Linked DNA regions of Homo sapiens. The protein of the gene in region 2 interacts with the protein of the main gene of each other region in a pairwise test. Each region holds a gene or a part of one and is shown on either strand. Other genes may lie near its edges.

Region 1 (7,052 bases), on a different chromosome or scaffold from region 2:
ACCACAGTTCTGATTTTTATCTTCAAGATTACGTTCGCCTGTTCCTGAATTTCACATAAATGGCTTTTTTTGCACCACAAATGAGTCCAAGATTCATTCATATTGTTGTGTTTAATGATCATTTGTTTTTTAAATTTGTACTCCATTGTAAGAACAATATAAGTAATTTTCTGTTGGTGAACATTTAAAATGTTCTAGTTTGGAGCTATTATGAATAAAGCTATAGTGAACATTCACGTATAAGTTTTTTGTGTACACATATATTTCATTTCTATTGGGTAAATTCCTAGGGAGTGGAATTACTAGGTTTTAGGGTAGGAATGTGTTTAACATTATGAAACTTCCCCTCATACAGCTTTTTTTTTTTTTTTTGAGACACTTTCTCTCTGTCACCCAGGCTGGAGTGCAGTGGTGCAATCATGGTTCCCTGAGCCTCGATCTCCCAGACTCAAGTGATCCTCCCACCTTAGCCTCCCTAGTAGCTGGGACCACAGGCATGCACCACCATGCCTGACTAATTTTTTTTTATTTTTGTAGAAATGGGATCTCCTTATATTGCCCAGGCTGGTCTCAAACTCCTGTGCTCAAGCCATTCTCCTGCCTTGGCCTCCCAAAGTGCTGGGATTTCAGGCAGGATCCACCATGCCTGGCTGAGCCCCTACTATATATATATATATATATATACACACACACACACACACACACACACATATATATACACACACATATATACGTATATATACGTATATATGTGTGTGTATATATATGTGTGTATATATGTGTGTGTATATATATGTGTGTGTGTGTGTGTGTGTGTGTGTATATATATATTATTTTTTTTTTTTTTTGAGACAGAGTCTCACTCTGTTGCCCGGCTGGAGTGCAGTGGCGCGATCTCGTCTCACTGCAAGCTCCGCCTCCCGAGTTCACGTCATTCTCCTGCTTCAGCCTCCCAAGTAGCTGGGACTACAGGCGCCCGCCACCTCGCCTGGCTAATTTTTTGTAGTTTTAGTAGAGACAGGGTTTCACCGGGTTAGCCAGGATGGTCTCAATCTCCTGACCTCATGATCCGCCTGCCTCAGCCTCCCAAAGTGCTGGTATTACAAGCGTGAGCCACTGCTCCCAGCCGAGCCCTAGATATTTTTTTAAAAAATATGGATTCATGGTCTTCAGTTCCAAGAAAGAATTCTGCGTCAGTCTGAGGTTCCTAGGCATGTATAATATGTAGTTTTTAAAAACTCCCCAGAACCAATGGTCTAAATTATATTGGTGGCGGTGGAAAGGAAGTTATTTTGGTTTGGTTTTCTTTTCCACCACAAAAGCATATAAATGTAAATAGTTTTTTTCCCTGCCTAGCTACAACCTTTCTCTGAACATTTTCCCCAACTCTAGCCATTAGCCCCAGTATTGAAATAGTCTCTCTTTTTAGTTTCTCTGGTGAAATGCAAAGCTCTGGTTTTTCTGCTCTTGCTTAAAGTGATGTAAAAGCTCAGGGAGCTCCTTGAAGCAGCCCTTAGAATTGCTAAGACGAGTAAACAAAAACAGATCTCTAGGGTGGAAAAGAACTTTGGACAGAATAGCAGTTGAGGGTGTGTGGCCCTGTGTACACCGGTAGGATTTTGTCTGGTGCTTTTACCTTTTTTCCCTTACTATTCTACCTAGCAGCAAGAAATAGTCAACTGTGTTCTGGCTGCTGCCAATGTCTACATTAAACAGCTGCCTCTGAGCATCCAACCTAGTGCCAGCCTAAATGGCTGCATATCACTAGAGAAGAAGCCTCTAGTTTCTACGCAGAGAAACTGAGACACAGGAATGGGAAGGGAGTCACTTAATGGATTAGGGACTGGTTGAGCTGGGACCAGAACCCAGGTGGCCTGGCTCCCAGCCCAGCTGACCACACTGCTACCCACACAGCCTGGGCTGACCAAAGACAAGCAGCCCATTGAGCAACTGCACAAACAACAATGAATGATGGATGGTCAGAGCAAGAAATAGGCACAAAGCAACTGTGACCCCATCACTTCCTGGCCCCTAAATTTCCAGGCAAGCCTATAAAGTGTGGTCACTTAAATGACTTTGACCAGCAACTTGGCCCAGCTTTCAAATCTGGAGACCTTCTATGGTCACTGCCAAAAGAAAAAGTCTTATATTGAGGGTAGAGTGCCTTTGAGCTCCACGCCTGGTTCTATTAAGTCTGTGGCAGTGGCGTTAAGATTAGAAAGACATATTTATATGGGTATAACCTGGTTCTGGACAGCTGTGGTGAAACAAGGCAACTTTCAGATTTTGAGGCTCCTCTTCTACAGATCTGTGCTCCCATCTCAGATTTAACTAGCAAAGGGTAGGTGTGGTCAGTGATTGTTGTCACAATCATTCCAGAATGTTTGTGTAGAGTTACTAGAATTTCAGTCTTTTCATTCTAAAGTATTTTCATCCCTCTCACCTTTCTAGAACGACACCCTTTTCAGCTCCTTTCCAACGGCTGTAGCCAACTGATTCTACCCCAGAGTCCCAAGCGTCCACCCCCGTACCCTTCCAGTTCAGTTCAGTTAGAGTTCAGTTAGAGTCAATTTAGGTGACCAAATCTCATCCTGCTCTCCTCCTTAAATTTACCACTAAACGGTAGCTAAAATTTGTGGTCCCTTATACGCTTGAAGCCCACGCCAAATGACTTTACTTGTCAACCTCTATTGTATGTCTTGGATATGCCCCCATGCAAGGCACTCTGACTTGTTTGGCCTTAGCATGTGTGGACAGCCTTGGGCCCAGCCCTAAATTTTCGATTGTAAACCCAGGTGTATCCCTAAGAGATATAGCTGTCTAGGAAGTTTCCCTGTTTCAGGTGTCAGTTTCCTATTCTGAGCTAGACAATTCTAAAATGCCTATGCCCCACGCCTCCCCTTTAGAAACTGAGGAAGAAGTGAGGGGAAAGAAAAGTTGACTAGAGTATTTGTTTTTACATAGGCATAATGGGCACAATTAGGCAATACATTATTTTGAATATGCAGACCAGGTGCTATAATGTTAGGAATCTGAATTAAAATTTCAAATGTCTTTTGTTAGAGTATAGCCGGGGTTGGCATCGTTTTGTGTTTGTCATAAAGAGGTATTTACTAAATGGCCTTTCTTTCTTGAAACAGTCCACACAGGCCTAATACTTATTCATTCATTCAACAAATATGGAAGGTCTACTATGTGACAAGGATGGCTTATTATGTTCTCATAGCCATAGCTCATTGTCACTCAGGTAGGACACATACAAGTTCTGCTACATATAATATAGTTTTATGTATTTTACTAAATTGTAAAACCTTTGATGTCTGGGATTATGTCTTGTTAATTTTTGTATCCCCCTGTATCACTGAGAGCAGTGATACACATCACAGGGATACAATACATATTTGAATTATGCCATAATGTTTTAAAAGACATAACAAACGCACTAGAAGACATAACAAACGCACTATGTAAGTTTTTTTTACTGTTAGCAGTCTAAAGCAGATGTATCAACAGGGTATCACTGTTATGCAAGTAAATAAATATTAAGTGTTTACAGAGAAGGATATGTTCACTTCAAGAGTGAAGGAACAAGAGAAATATATAATTGGGTGGAGACTGGTGTGGAAGAAGCTAATCTTCCTCCGGTCACTCCAGAATGATTGTGTAGAGTTACTAGAATGTCAGTCTTTTCATTCTGAAGTATTTTCATCTCTCTCACCTTTCTACAACTACTCCACCCCTTTCAGCTCCTTCCCAACGGCTGTAGCCAACTGATTCTACCCCAGAGTCCTAAGAGTCCACCCTGTACTCCTCCAACTCCTGTTCAAGAATGCTCCAGACCAGGAGCTTTAGGGACTCGGGTCGGGAAAACACGGGGTCACGCGCGGGGCAAGCGCCAAACTGGCCGCAGCCTGGGGAGCGGCGCTAAAGGCGGGGCTGCGACGGGGCGGAGCGGGAGGAGGCCCGGGGGCGGCCTGGGTGTCACCACCAACCCGCTCCGGCCGGAAACTGGCGCCTGTTTCCGGCCGGACAGCAGAAAGCCACCGATCCTGAACCAGCCGCCGGAGCCGGAGTGGCGACCGGGTGCGGAGTGGGCAAAAAGCCACTGGGGGAGGCCAGTCCCGATCAGTCCTTTCTGGCTCCAGCTCCAGATCCCGTGCGGAGCAACAGCTGCGGTCGCAGTCTCCACCACCGCCTCCACCTCCATCGCCGTCGGGGGAGGGGCCGGCCGGACCCCGGGGTCACTGCCGAGGAATGAAGAGAGGCGGCCGGGCCCCGCGCTCCGCCCCGGCCTAGGGCCTTGCCCCGGGAGCCCGCGAGGGTAACGGAGCCCCCCGTCCTGACACCGTCCCCCGTCTGCTCCCGCCCCTCCCGGCTTCTCAGACTCGCAAACTCTGCTCCTCAGATCGCCACTGTCCCCTTTCTCCTTTCTGAATCTGTTTCACCCGAAGCCATCTCCCCTCGGCACTCCTTTCTCGCCCTGACTGCTCCTTGCTTCGTCCCGATCTTTCCTCCTCCCTTTCACCTGCGTCCTGCGTTCCTACCCCGCGCTCTCCAGCTCCCGGCCTCCCTTCCTGAGCTGTGCTGGCCAGTTTGGACGGTCCCCCCTTGTCAGCTAGACTTTCGGGAGGGATGGTGGAGTTTTAAGGTGATTAAGATGCAGTGTATTATCCCCACAGTAGGATAAAGTTCATTTAAAATCTCAATATAATACTAAAATGAAAAGCAAATAAGCTTATTCTTCCTATTGATAGCCAAACTAAGGTGCATACAGTAATGGAGGAAAGGCGAGAAAAAGGTGTGTGTGTGTGTTTGTGTGTGTGTGTGAGAGAGGGAGAGAGACGGAGGTTGACGGATTCTAGGGCAGTCTTAAGAACTTTAGAAAAAAGAAAAGTTGCCATGAGCCGATGGAAACTTTAGAAGCTGATGATGAGTAAGCCGGGGGCTGCGTGATCTCACTCTTCTCATAATTACTAGGTTAACGGTGTGGCTCCGGTCGGGATGGAATGGGATTTGTTTACTGGGCCGGCGTATTTTTAGCTTGTCGGCTCACAAGGACCAGCGCTCAGAGTCTCTTTCTCCCCGCTCGTGGTAGTCTTTCTTGTCTAACCTAGGTGGCTTCTCTGGGCACAATAAAGATGTAAAAATTTGAAATTAGAAACTGACTGGTGGAATTTTATGGAAGAAGTTCCCCACAAACTTTTCAGGCAGCTTTTCACGAATGCAAAGCCTAGAATTAGCAGGACGTTGACTTTTATTTTCCTTATCTTTTTATACGTACTACGTAACGCTTTGCTTAGAAATTCACATGCTGCTAATTTTTCAGTCTTTGGCCTCTAGTACTGTATATTTAGGAGATTTTTGAGGAGGCTGGATCCCTTTGTCTTTCAGAATCTATTTCAAAGGTGGAAAAGGACAGAGTAGAGAAAGAGGTGGCGGTAAGACTGGCTCCAAAGAGTTGCTAACCCCTAAATATTTAAAAAAGTTTCTATGCTATGTAACTTCTGAAAACATGTAGAAAATTTTCTTCCTACTAAATGAGATTGCATTCCTGATGGGGAGAAGACTTCAGGGACGGAAGCTGGGTGGCTAGGGAGAATCAGAGGTAGTTAAATATTTGCTGTGTATAACTTACAAATACATTATGCGCAAACAATGAAGAATTAATTATACGCTTTGTCTTCATTGTTTTTCAAGTAGTTCTTTTAACGTTCAGTAACCAACCTGCTGTGCTAGTCTATTGATATTTTGAAGGCTGAACAAAACTGTAAAATAAATGAACTTGATGTTGCTCCTCTGCAGGCTGAATACCCCCGACCGTTCTAATTTCCACTATTGACCCAGCTTGCCTCAGAGCACCTCCCTGACAAAGTGGCCAGTTACTATGTACTTAGAGATTGCAAATCAATGCAAATATTAGCTCATACTAGGAATAATTAAGAAGGTAAATATGCTGAAAACATATATTCCAAAACCAAAATAGATTTTTTCGATTTTACCCTCATTTTTGATTATCACCACCTTTCTGCCAATAATTATCCGTTAACATGAATAATTTAGAATTGAACAGATATCTGCTTTGGACATTACACTTTCAAGATAGAAGGAAAGATGGAAGGAAGATAGTGCCAAACTAATTTTTTATTGTCATTGCCTTATTTGACTTATTCCTTGCTTTTAATACTGAAGACTCCCTCGGAAAAAAATGTAAAACTTTGCCAAAGCAAGAGCTGGCTATCTACTGACTTGTATAAGGCCCGGTGACTGGTAATGAATGCTAATCATTAGGTGGCCTTTAGTGGCCTTATGTTGCCAACAACTTGGAAAATTTCCCAAAGCTTTATTTGTTTAATCTTTCTTTTGAGACCCCTATTTAAAAAACGACTTAATTTGGAGACGAAAATCTAATTTTTAAAAACCACATACACCTTTCCCAGAATCTGTTGATGATCAATAATTGTTTTGATCTGTGTGAGTTGATTGGTGCCAATATTAGTGATGATATCTGGGTAAATTCTATTTATATCTGCATCTAGCAACTCCCTAAGTTGAACTGCATACTTTATTCCAGGGCATGGGGATCAAAGGGGTTGAAGAAGCCTAGGAATGAGTGGAGAGCTGCCTGGTAGTCCACCACTATTCCTAGTTCTCAGGAGGCTTTATTTGCAATTTTGAGATTCAATGTATGTAACCAAAATAAGTATTCTGATTGTTATGAGGGCACTAAGTGCCACTTGTCAAAGTTTTGGAGCTCCTGAGTATCTTAAGCATGCTAAAAGACACTGGCCATTATAGTGTGGGTGTATGTGTGTATGAGTAGCACTCTCCTTACCCTAAACACTCATCCCACCAAAGGGAAAATCCTTAAACAGCGCTTTGAAATGTGACCTCAGCAGTATCTTTCCTATGGGAACTTAGGAGCTGTGGAATAGCAGACTGTGGAATCTTTTTTGTAGCCTCTGATAAATTCAGGTAATTAAAAATTTGTGTAACTGGAAGATAGATACAGGGCAGTTTTTCTCATGAATGCCTGAATTCAGTTGACTTTTTAA
Region 2 (7,023 bases):
GTCAGGAGTTCGAGACCAGCCTGACCAACATGGTGAAACCCTGTCTCTACTAAAAATACCAAAAAAAAAAAAAAAAAAAAAAAAAAAAAATTAGCTGGGTGTGGTGGTGGGCACCTGTAATCCCAGCTATTCAGGAGGATGAGGCAGGAGAATCACTCAAACCCCAGAGGCAGAGGTTGCAGTAAGCCGAGATTGAGCCACTGCACTCCAGCCTGGGCAACAGAGCAAGACTCCATTTCAAAAAAAATAAAAATAAAAAAAGTTATCTAAGAGGTCCTCACCCCCCACAACTATAGTCATTCCATGTCCAGTCGGAGTGCCCATGACCACACTGACATTTTCCCCTGGTTTGCTCCCTGAGTGTGGCTCCCGAACACCTGCTCTCCTCAAGGAGGGAGAGACCTGGTAATGCTAAGCTGCCTTCTATCACATAAACCCCTCCTGCAGATCAGAAGGAAGAAAAGGCAGAAAGGATAGGGGGACTCTCTCATGGCTGATTTTTACTGCAGGCACAGAGGAATTTCCCAGTGTAGTCCAAGTGATCTGCACTACAATCTCTGGACTTGAACTCCTGGGCTCCAGCGATCCTCCCCCCGCAGCCTCCTGAGTAGTTGGGACCACAGGTGCACATCCACGCCCAGCTTGAGGAAGGTTATTAAAATACAGAAACCTGGGTTATATTTCTCAATCAGTCTGTCTGCCAATGAGGTCTTAGATTCTACATTTTAGCAAGCACAAGACATTTTAAAGACAACTATAGGCTGGGCGCGGTGGCTCACACCTGTAATCCCAGCACTTTGGGAGGCCAAGGCAGGTGGATCATCTGAAGTCAGGAGTTCGAGACCAGCCTGACCAACATGGCGAAACCCTGTCTCTACTAAAAGTACAAAAATTAGCCAGGCTTGGTGGCACATGCCTGTAATCCCAGTTACTTGGGAGACTGAGGCAGGAGAATCAGGAATTGTTTGAACCTGGGAGGTGGGGGTTGCAGTGAGCCAAGATCGCGCTATCGCACTCCAGCCTGGGCAACAAGAGCAAAACTCCATCTCAAAAAAAAAAAAAAAAAAAAAAAAGACCACTATAGTTTGTGACTCATAGTAACAATTTTAATTGTGTTAGTAATAATAATGTCTTCCTATCAGGAATGCAAGAATCCACACTATCACAGCTAAAAAGAGCTGATCAAGCTTAGAGACGTCGAATGGCAGGAACCTTTGATATATGAACAGTTATGTCGGTTAAACTGCATTTTTGGGGAGCCAGTCATCTGAAAATTCAGCAACAGTCCTACAGTTAATATCTGAAATAATTACCACATTTCACTGTTGTTATAGTGTAAGTTATTTTAAGACTTCCTTATCCAAAGTTTGACAGTTGTACACATGATTACAGTTAGACATCAGCTATTTTATTATTTTGTTTTGTTTTGTTTTATTTATTATGTAGAGATAGGGTCTCACTGTGTCACGCAGGCTGGAGAGCATGCCATTATAGGTTCACTGCAGCCTTCAACTCCTGGGCTCAAGTGATCCTCCCACCTCAGCCTTCCAATAGCAGGGACTACAAGTGCATACCACCATGCCTGGATATTTTTAAATTTTATTTTTAGAGACAGAGCCTCACTATGTTGCCCAGGCCACTCTCAAACTCCTGGCCTCAGAGATCTTCCTCCCTTGGTCTCCTAAAATGCTGGGATTACAGGCATGAGTTACTGCACCCAGCCAACCTTACACATTTTAATGAAACCATTTTTTTTTCTTCTCCCTTACAATTACCAGAATCTGGAGGTTTGTTTATCAACATTGTGTGCATGGCCATAATATTAGGTCCAGTGAAGCACTCCACATATTTCAGAATCTAAGAAAGCAAAAAAAAAACAAAAACAAACCTTGTGGGAAATCAGAAGTATTGACAACTGGTACAAAGTACAGTAGCTATCCACACAAGAACCAAGAAGGCAATAGTTTAAGAACCAAGCGGTATTTCACAACATTGCAAACAAAGCATGAAAAACCCAGCCATTGGAAATCATTCTAAATCTATAACACGGAATGAAATGGGCTTTTTCTGAGCTAGCTGGGAATGAAACCATTTTTTCTCTACAAGAAACATAGGAGTTCCGATGAGATATTAATATAGCTTTCTTGTCAACCCAAGCAACAGAAGGTTGCTCAGTGGGAGGGCAGTTTCCTCTTCCTCATTGGAGCCTCTGCATACGAAGAGTCCCATACAATTCACAGCTGTCATGAATAGCCCGGAAGAAAGCAGAATGGTGGCTTGGAGGACATTTGACAATCGGGGACGCTTGGCACTTGACAACTCATTACTGAGATCTGGGAACCAGGAGGTGACGGGAAATGGGGAAGCAAGAGTGAACAAGCAAAGCAGGTCCCAGGAGTTAGATGAAAAATGTTAACCCAGTAATGACATGGGTCAGAGTGGCCGAGGGACACTGCATTATGAAGAAAAGGCTAACATGGGGAACCGTGACAGGGAGAGCTGGTTTAGTCGTGGGGCCTGGGAGCTGGGCTGCCGCTACCTTGTGTACAGAACCCAGCAACGGAGAGGGAAAAAGCAGAAAGGGCTCAACACTGAGGTCGGGTGCGTTAGCGCACACCTGTAATCCTAGCACTTTGGGTGGCCGAGGCGGGCGGATCACTTGAGGTCAGGAGTTCAAAACCAGCTTGGCCAACATGGCAAAACCATATCTCTACTAAAAATACAAAAATTCGCCGGGCATGGTGGCACACGTCGGTAATCCCAGCTACTTGGGAAGCTGAGGCAGGAGAATCACTTGAACCCAGGAGGCAGAGGTTGCAGTGAGCTGAGATCATACCACTGCAGTCCAGCCTGGGCAACAAGAGTGAGACTCTGTCTCAAAAAAAAAAAAAAAAAAGAAGAAGAAGAAGAAAATAAAACAACCCATGATATTCAAATTTTGATTCTGCAAAAAAAAGACTCCAAAAAATAAGCCACCTTCTACTGCTTCCTCACTTTTTGATCTCTTGTGTATAAGGAATATTGGCAATTTGAGTATGAAACCCTGGAAAGGTTATTAAAAGCCTAGCAGTCAGGCACACACTTGCTTTTTATAAAGCCTGGTATTTTTTTGTATTCATCTAGGCTGGGATTTTCTAAATGCCAGCCATTCAAGAGCCATCCTCACAACTTCTGACATAACTTGTACTGTTATTTAGCCAATGATTTCCCTACCCTTAGTTAGCTCACTTGTTTTTTGTTTTTTGTTTTTGTTTTTGTTTTTTTTGAGATGGAGTCTCGCTCTGTTGCCCAGGCTAGGTGCAATGACATGATCTCGGCTCACTGCAACCTCTGCCTCCCGGGTTTAAGCGATTCTCCTGCCTCAGCCTACTGAGTAGTTGGGATTACAGGCGCCCGCCACCATGCCCAGCTAATTTTTGTATTTTTAGTAGAGACTGGGTTTCACCATGTGTCTCAGGCTGGTCTCAAACTTCTGACCTCGTGATCTGCCCACCTCGGCCTCCCAAAGTGCTGGGATTACAGGCATGAGCCACCGCGCCCGGCAGTTAGCTCACTTCTCTTATTCAATCTTTGTTTTTTTCTTTTTTTCCAATATAGACAATGGTCTCACTATGTTGCCAGACTGGTCTTGAACACCTGGCCTCAAGTGATTCTCCTGTTTCAGCCTTCCAAAGTGCCACTTCGCCTGGCCTTTTTATTTAATCTTGTCCTAATTAACAACATTTTTGAAATCATGAGTTTGGTAGACTGTTGAGTTTTTTTCCAATACATTTAAAAATAAATATCTATTAAAATAATTTATACCTCCTAAAATCATGGCATAGACCACCAGATACTGGTCCCATTCTTCAGAAATGTAGGACACTGGCCAGGCGCAGTGACTCATGCCTGTAATCCCAGCACTTTGGGAGGCCGAGGTGGGTGGATCACGAGGTCAGAAGTTCGAGACCAGCCTGAGCAATATGGTGAAACCCTTTCTCTACTAAAAATACAAAAATTAGCCAGGTGTGGTGGCAGGCACCTGTAAACCTAGCTACTTGGGAGGCTGGGGCAGGATAATCACTTGAACCTGGGAGGAAGAGGTTGCAGTGAGCCGAGATCGCACCACTGCACTCCAGCGTGGGCAACAGAGCGAGACTCTGTCTCCAGAAAAGAAAACAAAATAAAACCCACTGATTTTACTCAATTCAACTCCTTTCCATATCCAGCTCTAAGAGCAGTGGTTCCTGGGATCAAGCGATCCACCTGCCTCAGCCTCCCACAGTGCTCGGATTACAGGAGTGAGCCACTGCGCCCGGCCAAATCAGCGGGTTTTACAGGCAGACATACACACTGGCAATTAAGCCGACGCAAAGCAAGGGTGGTCTCTGACCTCGGGGAGAGTGCAGTATCTGAAGAGCTCCTTATCTTCCTGGAAATCCTGGACCTTCGTGATCATCTTCTCACTTGGAGCATATTCGGATTTCGAAATGGTCACATCTCTCATTACTGTTAATCCTAATGGTTTCACCTCCTTTCTGCAGATTTTTTCAAACTCATTCCTAGAAAATTTAATTTGCAAATGATGTCGTTACCGCTGGCTCCAAGCACCTGCCCTGCCCTCCTCTGTGGAAAGGGTTGCAGACTTGAGGGGTGGTTTCTCTGCACTAAGTTGGCCTCCAGCTTGAGGTAGAATAATTCCAATGAAAGGGAGGAGAAACTGTCTGGCTAGAATCCATTCCCAGAATTAAATTATTCCCTAGTTTAGCATACCAGTAGGGAAGTCTTTTTATAATTTGGTTACATTGTAATAATAATAACAGCAAACATTTCTGTAACACTTACCATGTGCCCAGCTCTCTTCAAAGTGGTTTCCATATATTTCACCGTATTTAGTCCTAATAACAACACTAGGACATAAGTGCTATTATTATCCCCATTTTACAGATGAGGAAACAGAGGCATGGGATGTGAAGTAAATTGCCCCAGGACACATGATATTAAGTGGTGGAGCTGAGACTGAAGCCCAGGCATGGTGGCTCCCGACTGTAATCCCAGCAACTCAGGAGGGTGAGGCCAGGAGTTCAAGACCAGCCTGGGCAACATAGTGAGACTCCCTGTCTCTAAAAACAAAGAAATAAAAAATTAGCTGGGTATGGTGGTGCACAACTGTGGTCCCAGCTACTCAGGAGGCTGAGGCAAGAGGATTGCTTGAGCCCAGGAACTTGAGGCCGCAGTAAGCTATGATCGCACCACTGCACTCAGCCTACACAACAGAGTGAGAACCTTTCTCTATAAAAAATAAAAAGCCAGTCTGGCACCAGAGCCCATGCTTCTAAACACTTCCCAACAAACCAAATCATTAAAAAACATCTGTAAAGCCAGGAGCGAATCCACCTTGTATTCTCATTACATGCACACAATACATACTATTGTAAAATAACAAATAGTGTTACTGTACCGAAAGCGTTGAATATCGGCATCAGGTACAAGATTTTTGATTACTAGAAACCCATTTTCTTCATAAAATTTTCTCTGTTCCAGGGTTAGAACGTTATTATCCAGAGTATACCTAAAGGAGAAAAAGAATCCCAAAATAAGTTACATTTTTAAATTACAGGCTAGGCACAATGGCTCACACCTCTAATACTAGCACTTTAGCGGGCCGAGGCAAGTGGATCACTTGAGGTCAGGAGTTTGAGACTAGCCCAGGCAACATGATGAAACCCTGTCTCTACAAAAAATACTGGTTGTGCCACTCCACTCCAGCATGGGCGACAGAGTGAGACCCTGTCTCAAAAAAAAAAAAAAAATTTAAATTACATCCTAAAAATATGTATCAAGAACCTGAGGCTAGGCGTGGGGGCTCATGCCTATAATCCCAGCACTTTGGGAGGCCGAGGCAGGTGGATCGCCTGAGGTCAGGAGTCTGAGACGAACCTGACCAACATGGTGAAACCCCATGTTTACTGAAAACACAAAGTTTAGCCAGGCATGGTAGTGGGCACCTGTAATCCCAGCTACCCGGGAGGTTGAGGCAGGAAAATCGCTTGAACTTGGGAGGCGGAGGTTGCAGTGAGCTCTGATCATGGCACTGCACTCCAGCCTGGGCGACAGAGCCAGACTCCGTCTCAAAAAACAAAAACAAAGACAAAAACAAGAACCTAGGAAACGTTCATGCTCTTCAATTCAGCATTTCTAAGACCAAGGAAATAATCTGAAAACTTACGCTTTATGTCACCAAAACAAGTGCATTAGTGGGCCGGGCACAGTGGCTCATGCCTGTAATCCCAGCTTTTTGGGAGGCTGAGGCAGGTGGATCACCTGAGGTCGGGAGTTCGAGACCAGCCTGACTCACATGATGAAACCCCATCTCTACTAAAAATACAAAAATTAGCGTGCCTGTAATCCCAGCTACTCAAGAGGATGAGGCAGGAGAATCGCTAGAACCTGTGGGGGTGGAGATTGCAGTGAGCCAGGATTGCACCAGTGCACTCCAGCCTGGGTGACAGAGCAAGGCTCCATCTCAGAAAAAAAAAAAAAAAAAAAAGTGCATTAGTGGAAGAAAAATTAACTAGTGACACTATGTTCACTCAGTGGAATATGACTCAGACATTAAAAATTAAGGCCATATAATAGTATGGATGGCGGGCACAGTGGCTCATGCCTGTAATCCTAGCTTTGGGAGGCTGAGGTGGGCGGATCACGAGGTCAGATCGGGACCATCCTGGCTAACACGGTGAAACCCGCCTCTACTAAAAATGCAAAAAATTAGCCCGGCATGGTGTCTGGCGCCTGTAGTCCAGCTACTGGAGAGGCTGAGGCAGGAGAATGGCGTGAACCCGGGAGGCGGAGCTTGCAGTGAAGCAAGATGGCACCACTGCACTCCAGCCTGGGCGACAGAGCCAGACTCGGTCTCAAAATAAAATAAAATATAATAAAATATAATAAAATAAAAAATAGTATGGACAATGCTTATTATAATAAAATATTATTACAATTATGTAAAACCAAGACACTATATGAAAAAAAGAAAAGCCTGCA
Region 3 (7,280 bases), on a different chromosome or scaffold from region 2:
AGGTGGTGTGTGCCTGTAGTCCCAGCTACTCAGGAGGCTGAGGCAGGAGAATTGCTTGAACCCAGGAGGCGGAGGTTGCAGTAAGCCGAGATTGTGCCACTGCACTCCAGCCTGGCAACAGAGTGAGACTCCGTCTAATAAAAAAAAAACAAAAAAACAAAAAACACAAAACAAGTAGACAACCACTCAGGCTATTTTTTCACTGTCCAGGTGTTTTGAGGTGTTTTTTCCTTTTCCTTTTCTCAAAATGATTCAAGTAAATACAATACAGGAAATGCTGACACTAAGATCTTGGCAAATTACTTGTGTGTATCTGTTATTTCATATGTAAAATGCAGATAACAGTAGTACTTATAGGGTTGTCATGAGGATTAAAAGAATTACTACATACAAAGCATTTGGTAGAGTGCTGACACACAGTAATCACTAGATAGGTGCAATTATTTTCATTGTAATTTTTTTTTTTAAACTTTTTTTCTAGGTTCAGGGGGACATATGCAGGTTCATTATACAGGTAAATTGCATGTTGCAGTGGTTCAGTGTACAAATTATTTTGTCACCCAGGTGATAAGCATAGTACCCAAGAGGTAGTTTTCTGATCCTCACCTTCCTCCCTCTCTCCACCCTCAAGTAGGCCTTGGTGTCTGTGGTTCCCTTCTTTGTCTCCATGTGTACTCAATGTTTAGCTCCCACTTATAAGTCAGAATAGGTGATATTTGGTTTTCTGTTCCCGTGTTAGTTTGCTTTAGAATAATGGCCTCCAGCTCCATCCACGTTGCTGCAAAGGACATGATCTCGTTTTTTTATGGCTGCATAGTATTCCATGGTGTATATGTACCATGTTTTCTTTATCCAGTCAACCACTGATGGTCATTTATGCTGATTCCATGTCTTTGCTATTGTGAATAGTGCTGTGATGAACATACTTGTGCATGTGTCTTTATGGTAGAACAACTTATATTCCTTTGATAGAACAACTTATAAGAACAACTTAGAATCCAATAATGGGATTGCTGGGTCAAATGGTAATTCTGTTTTGAGTTCTTTGAGAAATCACCAAACTGCTTTTCATAAATTAAATCATAATGTATAATTAATGTGTTACAGGGAATTTGGTGAAGCAAAAATTTACACAAGTATAAGCAGCAAATTCTGGGAGTATTTTTGGGCAGATGGTAGAAGGGCATGTTAGGGAACCAATACAGTACTATTTATAAAAGTCTTTGCTTACAACATATTAATTTCCCAATGAAGGAACGGACCATTCTAAGATTTTAGAATGTAGTGGATGAATTTGATGTGTGGCTTTTATAGTAGACAGCCACTTACTTCTCGAGTTCCTTACAGACACTTGAAGGTTCAGATAATTGCCACGTTTTGCCTTCCCTATTATATGATAAGCAGAAGAGCCCCGGCCCGGCGCAGTGGTCACGCCTGTAATCCCAGCACTTTGGGAGGCCGAGGTGGGTGGATCATTTGAGGTCAGGAGTTTGAGAACAGCCTGGCCAACATAGTGAAACCCTGTCTCTACTAAAAATGCAAAAATATTAGCTGGGCATGGTGGTGCATGCCTGTAATCCCAGCTACTCTGGAGGGTGAGGCAGGAGAATCACCTGAACCTGGGAGGCAGAGGTCCCAGTGAGCCGAGATCGCACCACTACACTCCAGCCTGGGCGACAGAGCGAGACACCGTCTCAAAAACAAACAAACAAACAAACAAACAAGAAACAGAAGAGCCCCAGAACAATAAATGTTTTTCCTCACATAATAAAATACACGAATACATTAAAACTGCTTTTTCTTGTTTGCTTTTTCTAGTTTTTGTTTTACCTGTCCTCTGAGGCAGTTGGGCGAGTAACCGTCTGGAGGGGGTTGTGCAATTCATTAGAGTAAAAGGTGTTGGACAGTATGTCAGCTCCTTCAAGCTCCCTGCAACAGTAGGGCCTGCCGTGAATGACTTCCATGCTTCTTGGCTAAAAAGGCACAACCTGGAAAAGAAAAGGAGGGCACATTTGGCTTGTCGAGTCAAGGCAGGCAGAAAACACATTTTACACTGCTAAATTGTTCAACCTGACGCTGCACAGACGTCACAGGCTTCCCTCTGCACTGAAAGCCGTCAAATCAGTAATAAATAGAGACCTAAATAAGTTCTATGGAAATAAATTTCAACTGAAACAAATCCACAAAGTGGACGGTGCCTCCAAGTAGTCACCAGAATGATCATCCAGTAGGTTCGTACCAGTCCGCTACTTTGTGGCCATCAACTGACATTCAATTCCTGCCTTAAATTTAACTATAACTATTCAAGAAAACTCACTTGACTTTTAGCCTGTGGTCTTTCCGAAAATTAGAGACTCTTCATTCAACAAAATAAGCGCTGTCCTAAAGCCTTCGGGGATTCTGGACAAGAATCCCTTTGCAGATGGTGGAGTCAGTAGTGCAGCACGAACGGGACCCTAAAGGGGATTCCCGGTTTCCAACTGCGTCGGGGAGAATCCCACCTCTCTCTCGGACTTGGGGGAAGGCCAGGAGCCGGCGTAGCTGGGACCAAGGGTGCCAGGGGTCGAGGCCGAGCCTCACGGGCTGTCACTGCCCTGCAAGCGGTGCCTCGGGGGTCTGGACATACCTGGGACATGAGCCTGGGGGCGCTGCGGGACCGCGCCTCCCCTCCCCTCCCCGCAGCTGGCGGCCTTCGCGGGCCGAGGAATTTTGAGGTCGTCCGCACCTACGGCCCGGTGGAGCTGGCAGGCAGGGGCGGGGGCGGGAGAAGGACGGCGGGCAGGCCGGGGTGGGGTGGGGCTGGGGGCGCTTGTGACGGTGGCCGTGACCGCGGCATTAGGTGATGCGTCCTTGAGGGGCTGGGGGCTTCCGGGCGGCGAGCGGGGCGCAGTAGGAGGCTCTTAGAGACCTCGGAGGAAACCAGCCCAGCGCTACGGGACTGGCAAGAATGCGAAGAGGAACCGAGAGTGAACGGAGTGCGAGGCGCCGGGTCGGAGGCGAGAGGGGCTCTTCCGCCTTGCGACCCCTGGCCCCGCCTCCCGGTCCCTTGCCCCGCCCCTCTCGGCTCACCGCCCTGCCTCCAGTCGGACCCCGCCTTGCCCCACCCGCGCCCCGCCCCCAGGCGCCCTCTAGCGGCGGCGGCGATGGCGATACCAGTTTCTTTTTCCAGGGCTACCAGGTCTGGAGCTGTCTCAGGGCCGGCCAGGGAGCTCTCTCATGTGGACTGGGCGGAGGAGGAAGAGCTCCGGTCCAGTGGAGTCCCTGGTGAGGTCGGAGCATCCGACCTGTCCTCCCTCCCCAGGTCACCTCGCAAAAATTGGGGACAGTGTGGCCAGATAGAGGGTGGAGTCTGCAGGATTCTGAAACTGCAGCCCCTGGCATGGCGCCCTAACAGAGTCTCTGCTCCTTCCCTGGTGGGTGCGGACATGGCAAAGTCCTTTACTTGCCTCGTCCCCAGGGCCTAGCCCCACCTTGATTACCTCAGTTTTCCCCAAAAGATACAAATGTGAGCCATGAATCTGCACCTACAGGGTCATGAGTTCCTGTGATGGCTGACAATAAGGGATGTCACCCCCCCCTCGCCACCTGCCACCCCATCAAGGAATGGGATGTGAGGAGGTTAGGTTGTGTGTATATGTGTGATATGGTTAGGCTTTGTGTCCCCACTCAAATCTCATCTTGAATTGTAATACCCATAATCCCCGCTTGTCAAAGGAGAGACCAGGTGGAAGTAATTGGATCATGGGGGCAGTTTCCCCCATGCTGTTCTCGTAATAGCGAGTGAATTCTCACGAGATCTGATGGTTTTATAAGAGGCTCTTCTCCCTTCTCCCAGCACTTTTCCTTCCTGCCCCCTTGTGGAGAAGGTAACTGCTTCTCCGTGGCCTTCTGCCATGATTGTAAGTTTCCTGAGGCCTCCGCAGCCATGTGAGATTGTGAGTCAACTAAACCTCCTTCGTTTATAAATTACCCAGTCTTGGGCAGTTCTTTACAGCATTGTGAGAAAAGACTAATACAGTGTGGGAGGCTAGAAATGAGCCTGCAGGAACCAGAAGGTGAGGGTGAGAATGACCACCTCTGAGAAGAAGGGCGTTGAAACTGTGTGCCAAAGAGTTAAAGAAAACAGTCATAGAAATTCTTGAGTTTACAGGATGGCAGATAAAAGAAACAAATTGCTGAAATGCTGAAATGCCTGGGCTTGTAGGTTAATAAAACTGGCTGAAATCCACTGGAACATATAAGGCCAACTAGAGTCTGCACAGATCCAGCTTGCTGACCTTACAGCTGAATTTCTACTGCCATGTTTCATACTAACTCCTCACTGAATTTGCACGTGGAACCCTTAGGTAGCATGAAGAAATAAGAGCACATGCGCAAGGACTTTCCAGACTTCCTCTTTCCTTCCACCAAGCACCTGCTAATCCCAGAATCCACACTCAAAACCATTTCTAATAAAATAATTGTCCTAAAGCCAGCACAGGGAGACAGATTTGAGCTGGACTTCCTATTTCTTTGTTGGTTGACATGCAATAAAAGTTTTTATTTTATCAAAAACCCAGTGTTATAGTATTGACTTCTAGTGCCTCGGGCAGCGAGCCTCCTTTGCTTGGTAACAGTATGATGGTGCCTTTGCTATTCTCTGCCTACTTTACAACTTTCTACTAACCAACCAGTGGGCATTCATTTTGTGCTGTGCCTTCTATGTGAGTGTTACCTGGAGTGGGGGAAGAAAGGTGTATTGAAGTAGGCACAGTGGTAATTTTGTAGTCTTGGTTTATTTCTTAGTTCCTGCACCTCTGCCGACCTTCCAGTAGTTACCACCCACTAAGCCTAGAGGAATAGATCCTGCTGGAGACAGAGTTGTGTATTAGGTGAAACTGGCTTTTATCTTTGACATCTTTATTTCCCCTCCAATTTCTGGTAGTTCATTGTAAGCTTTTGCCCCTTTTCTGCTCCTCTGTGTTCAGGATCTCCCATTAAATTCCTTGTCTCCCCAGCCCATTTCATGTCCCCAGTCTTCCAGTACTTTCTATACTTCACCTTTTTCTCATCCTCAACCTTAGTCCTATTTTCCCATGGCTTGATTCTTCCTGGGAGGAATAACTGAGCATGATAGATTTAATCAGAGGCATCTGATGAAGATGCATCACTAGCCATGTATGTACATGGATGGTAGTGACACCGGAGAAAGTGTGTCAACTCCAGGTTGAATGATCAGGATATGCCATGTGATAGCCTCCAGGTTCTAGGGGATTTGAAATTTTATTTTAGGTCAGATGAGTGTAAAAGGCAGATAAATGTAATTATTTTTATCTTTATCGTTTTTCAAATAAAATGTACCGGCAAGAAAAATTCATTGTCAGATCGTTGTAAAACAATTGTTTTCTTTGAAAATGCTTCTCCATCTGAAATTTTCAGGGATATCAGGATTGGGTCTATTTGTTTGACCAACACTCGTTACTCTTAGCTTTTGTGATTTAACTCACTCCATCTCAGCCAGGATGTGATCTCAACAACACAAAGTAGCCTCCTACCCAGGGATGCTCAAGTGACGAATTTCTTAGGTATAACATGGCCAGGGGGCCAGTAGCCTCAGATTGCCTTCTTTTGACTTCTCACATGTTGATCTTGTCACCACCTCATTTTGCTAGTAATCCTTCAAGCAGGGAAGATGAAATTTGGCAATGAAAATAATATATGCTTAGAATACTGTGGGTTGATGACAATTCCAAATCACAGTTAGACCTTTCACCTTCAGGTAAAGAATAAGTAGGAGGTAGATAATAACATAAAGCATGAATTACAGTCTATAACCTTTCTTTTAAGTCTGTTATAGAGACCAGTAAAATGAATGAAGAGACCAGGAACATGATTTTTTTTTTCTTTTTGAAACAGAGTCTCTGTTGCCCAGGCTGGAGTACAATGGTGTGATTTTGGCTCACTGCAACCTCCGCCTCCCCGGTTCAAACAATTCTCCTGCCTCAGCCTCCCAAGTAGTTGGGATTACGAGTGCTCGCCACCACGCCTGGCTAATTTTTTGTATTTTTAGTAGAGACGGGGTTTTGCCATATTGGCTAGGCTGGTCTCAGACTCCTGACCTTAGGTGATCCGTCTGCTTTGGCCTCCCAAAGTGCTGGGATTACAGGCGTGAGTCATGCACCCGGCCCAGTGAATATTTTTTACATGAAAAAACAATTTGGAGTCTGGTGCCTTGCTTAGAAGATGTGTTGGAAAGTGTCTCAGTAACGTTAAAATATGCATCTTTAAAAATTGAAAAACTTAAAGCCTTGTTGATTTCAGTATATGTATCTTCTTAGTAGGATGACAATTAAAAGTATGTATATTCTGCTGACTTTAAACTACAAATGAGTTAAATTACACTTTAATACTTTTTTGGTACTAAATAATTTAACCTAAGTTCAGTACTTTAAATTCTTCTCAAAACATATTTTCTTTCTTTCATAGTTGTTTATTATAAAAACGCAATCAGCTTTTTTGTGGGTGTCATTTCAATTTTTTTCTTGAAGAGGGTTATTTTTAAAGAGCATTGTAATCTCAACAGTCTTTATGGTTGTAGTCATGTCAACTATGATCAATTGAATAAGCCTAGAAATGTAATGTGCAGCACAAGGATTATAATATTCATAATATTGTATTGCATACTAAAATTTTTCTAAGAATGTAGATTTTAGATGTTCTCCTCCTCCAATAAAAAATTTACTGTGTGAAAAACAATAATAATTTTTTTTTTGCCTTGAGTAGCTAAGGAACTAGGTGGTCATTTAGTAGTGAACACTGAAGTGACGTTGATGCACACATTTATAAAATGTGCTATTTAGTAAACAGTTACCTAGAATGCATCAGGGGTTGTCCTAGCACCTACAATCTATGGGGACATGGAGCCATGGAGAGTCATAATCAGTGAGGTAAGTGCTCGACTGGGGCCAGCACTCTTGCTGTAGGGGTCCATGGTCACCTAACCAAGACTCTTGTGCTTCTGATATCATTCCCTTGGAAATGTCTGAAAAGCAATGTAAGGTTCTTCTATTTAGAAACATGATCATCAGGACCCTTTAGCGAGGTGACCCGGCCATGTGCCCTTGGTTACATGCAGTTGTTTGTCCTTGTGGCCTCCCTGGCATCTTTCCTTTTATCTTTCTTTGCATCTTCCTACATGGATATTCTAACATTTTGTCCCATGAATTTGAGTTCCTTCTGGGTAGCCTTTTTCTCTCTAATCTTAAACCTCTGCTCAGAAGACTCAGTGGTCAGTCTCTATT

The links. Proteins that work in one complex are often made in the same cells at the same time.
Region 1: the proteins of PHYH (region 2) and OTUD7B interact in binary tests that used the Homo sapiens proteins (3 or more experiments, as listed by UniProt).
Region 3: the proteins of PHYH (region 2) and SPMIP4 interact in binary tests that used the Homo sapiens proteins (3 or more experiments, as listed by UniProt).

Annotation. Positions count from the first base shown.
Region 1 is NC_000001.11:150,007,717-150,014,768, reverse strand, and holds the start of OTUD7B (OTU domain-containing protein 7B), read left to right. Parts: upstream 1-4,042; 5' UTR 4,043-4,321; exon of another isoform or gene 4,322-7,052. UniProt on the Homo sapiens protein: Negative regulator of the non-canonical NF-kappa-B pathway that acts by mediating deubiquitination of TRAF3, an inhibitor of the NF-kappa-B pathway, thereby acting as a negative regulator of B-cell responses.
Region 2 is NC_000010.11:13,290,056-13,297,078, forward strand, and holds part of PHYH (phytanoyl-CoA dioxygenase, peroxisomal isoform a precursor), read right to left. Parts: intron 5,552-7,023; coding exon 5,441-5,551; intron 4,542-5,440; coding exon 4,373-4,541; intron 1,858-4,372; coding exon 1,776-1,857; coding exon of another isoform or gene 1,770-1,775; intron 1-1,769. UniProt on the Homo sapiens protein: Catalyzes the 2-hydroxylation of not only racemic phytanoyl-CoA and the isomers of 3-methylhexadecanoyl-CoA, but also a variety of other mono-branched 3-methylacyl-CoA esters (with a chain length of at least seven carbon atoms) and straight-chain acyl-CoA esters (with a chain length longer than four carbon atoms).
Region 3 is NC_000007.14:25,177,345-25,184,624, forward strand, and holds the start of SPMIP4 (sperm-associated microtubule inner protein 4), read right to left. Parts: upstream 3,011-7,280; 5' UTR 2,318-3,010; intron 1,989-2,317; 5' UTR 1,965-1,988; coding exon 1,831-1,964; intron 288-1,830; exon of another isoform or gene 1-287. UniProt on the Homo sapiens protein: Microtubule inner protein (MIP) part of the dynein-decorated doublet microtubules (DMTs) in flagellum axoneme. May serve to reinforce and thus stabilize the microtubule structure in the sperm flagella.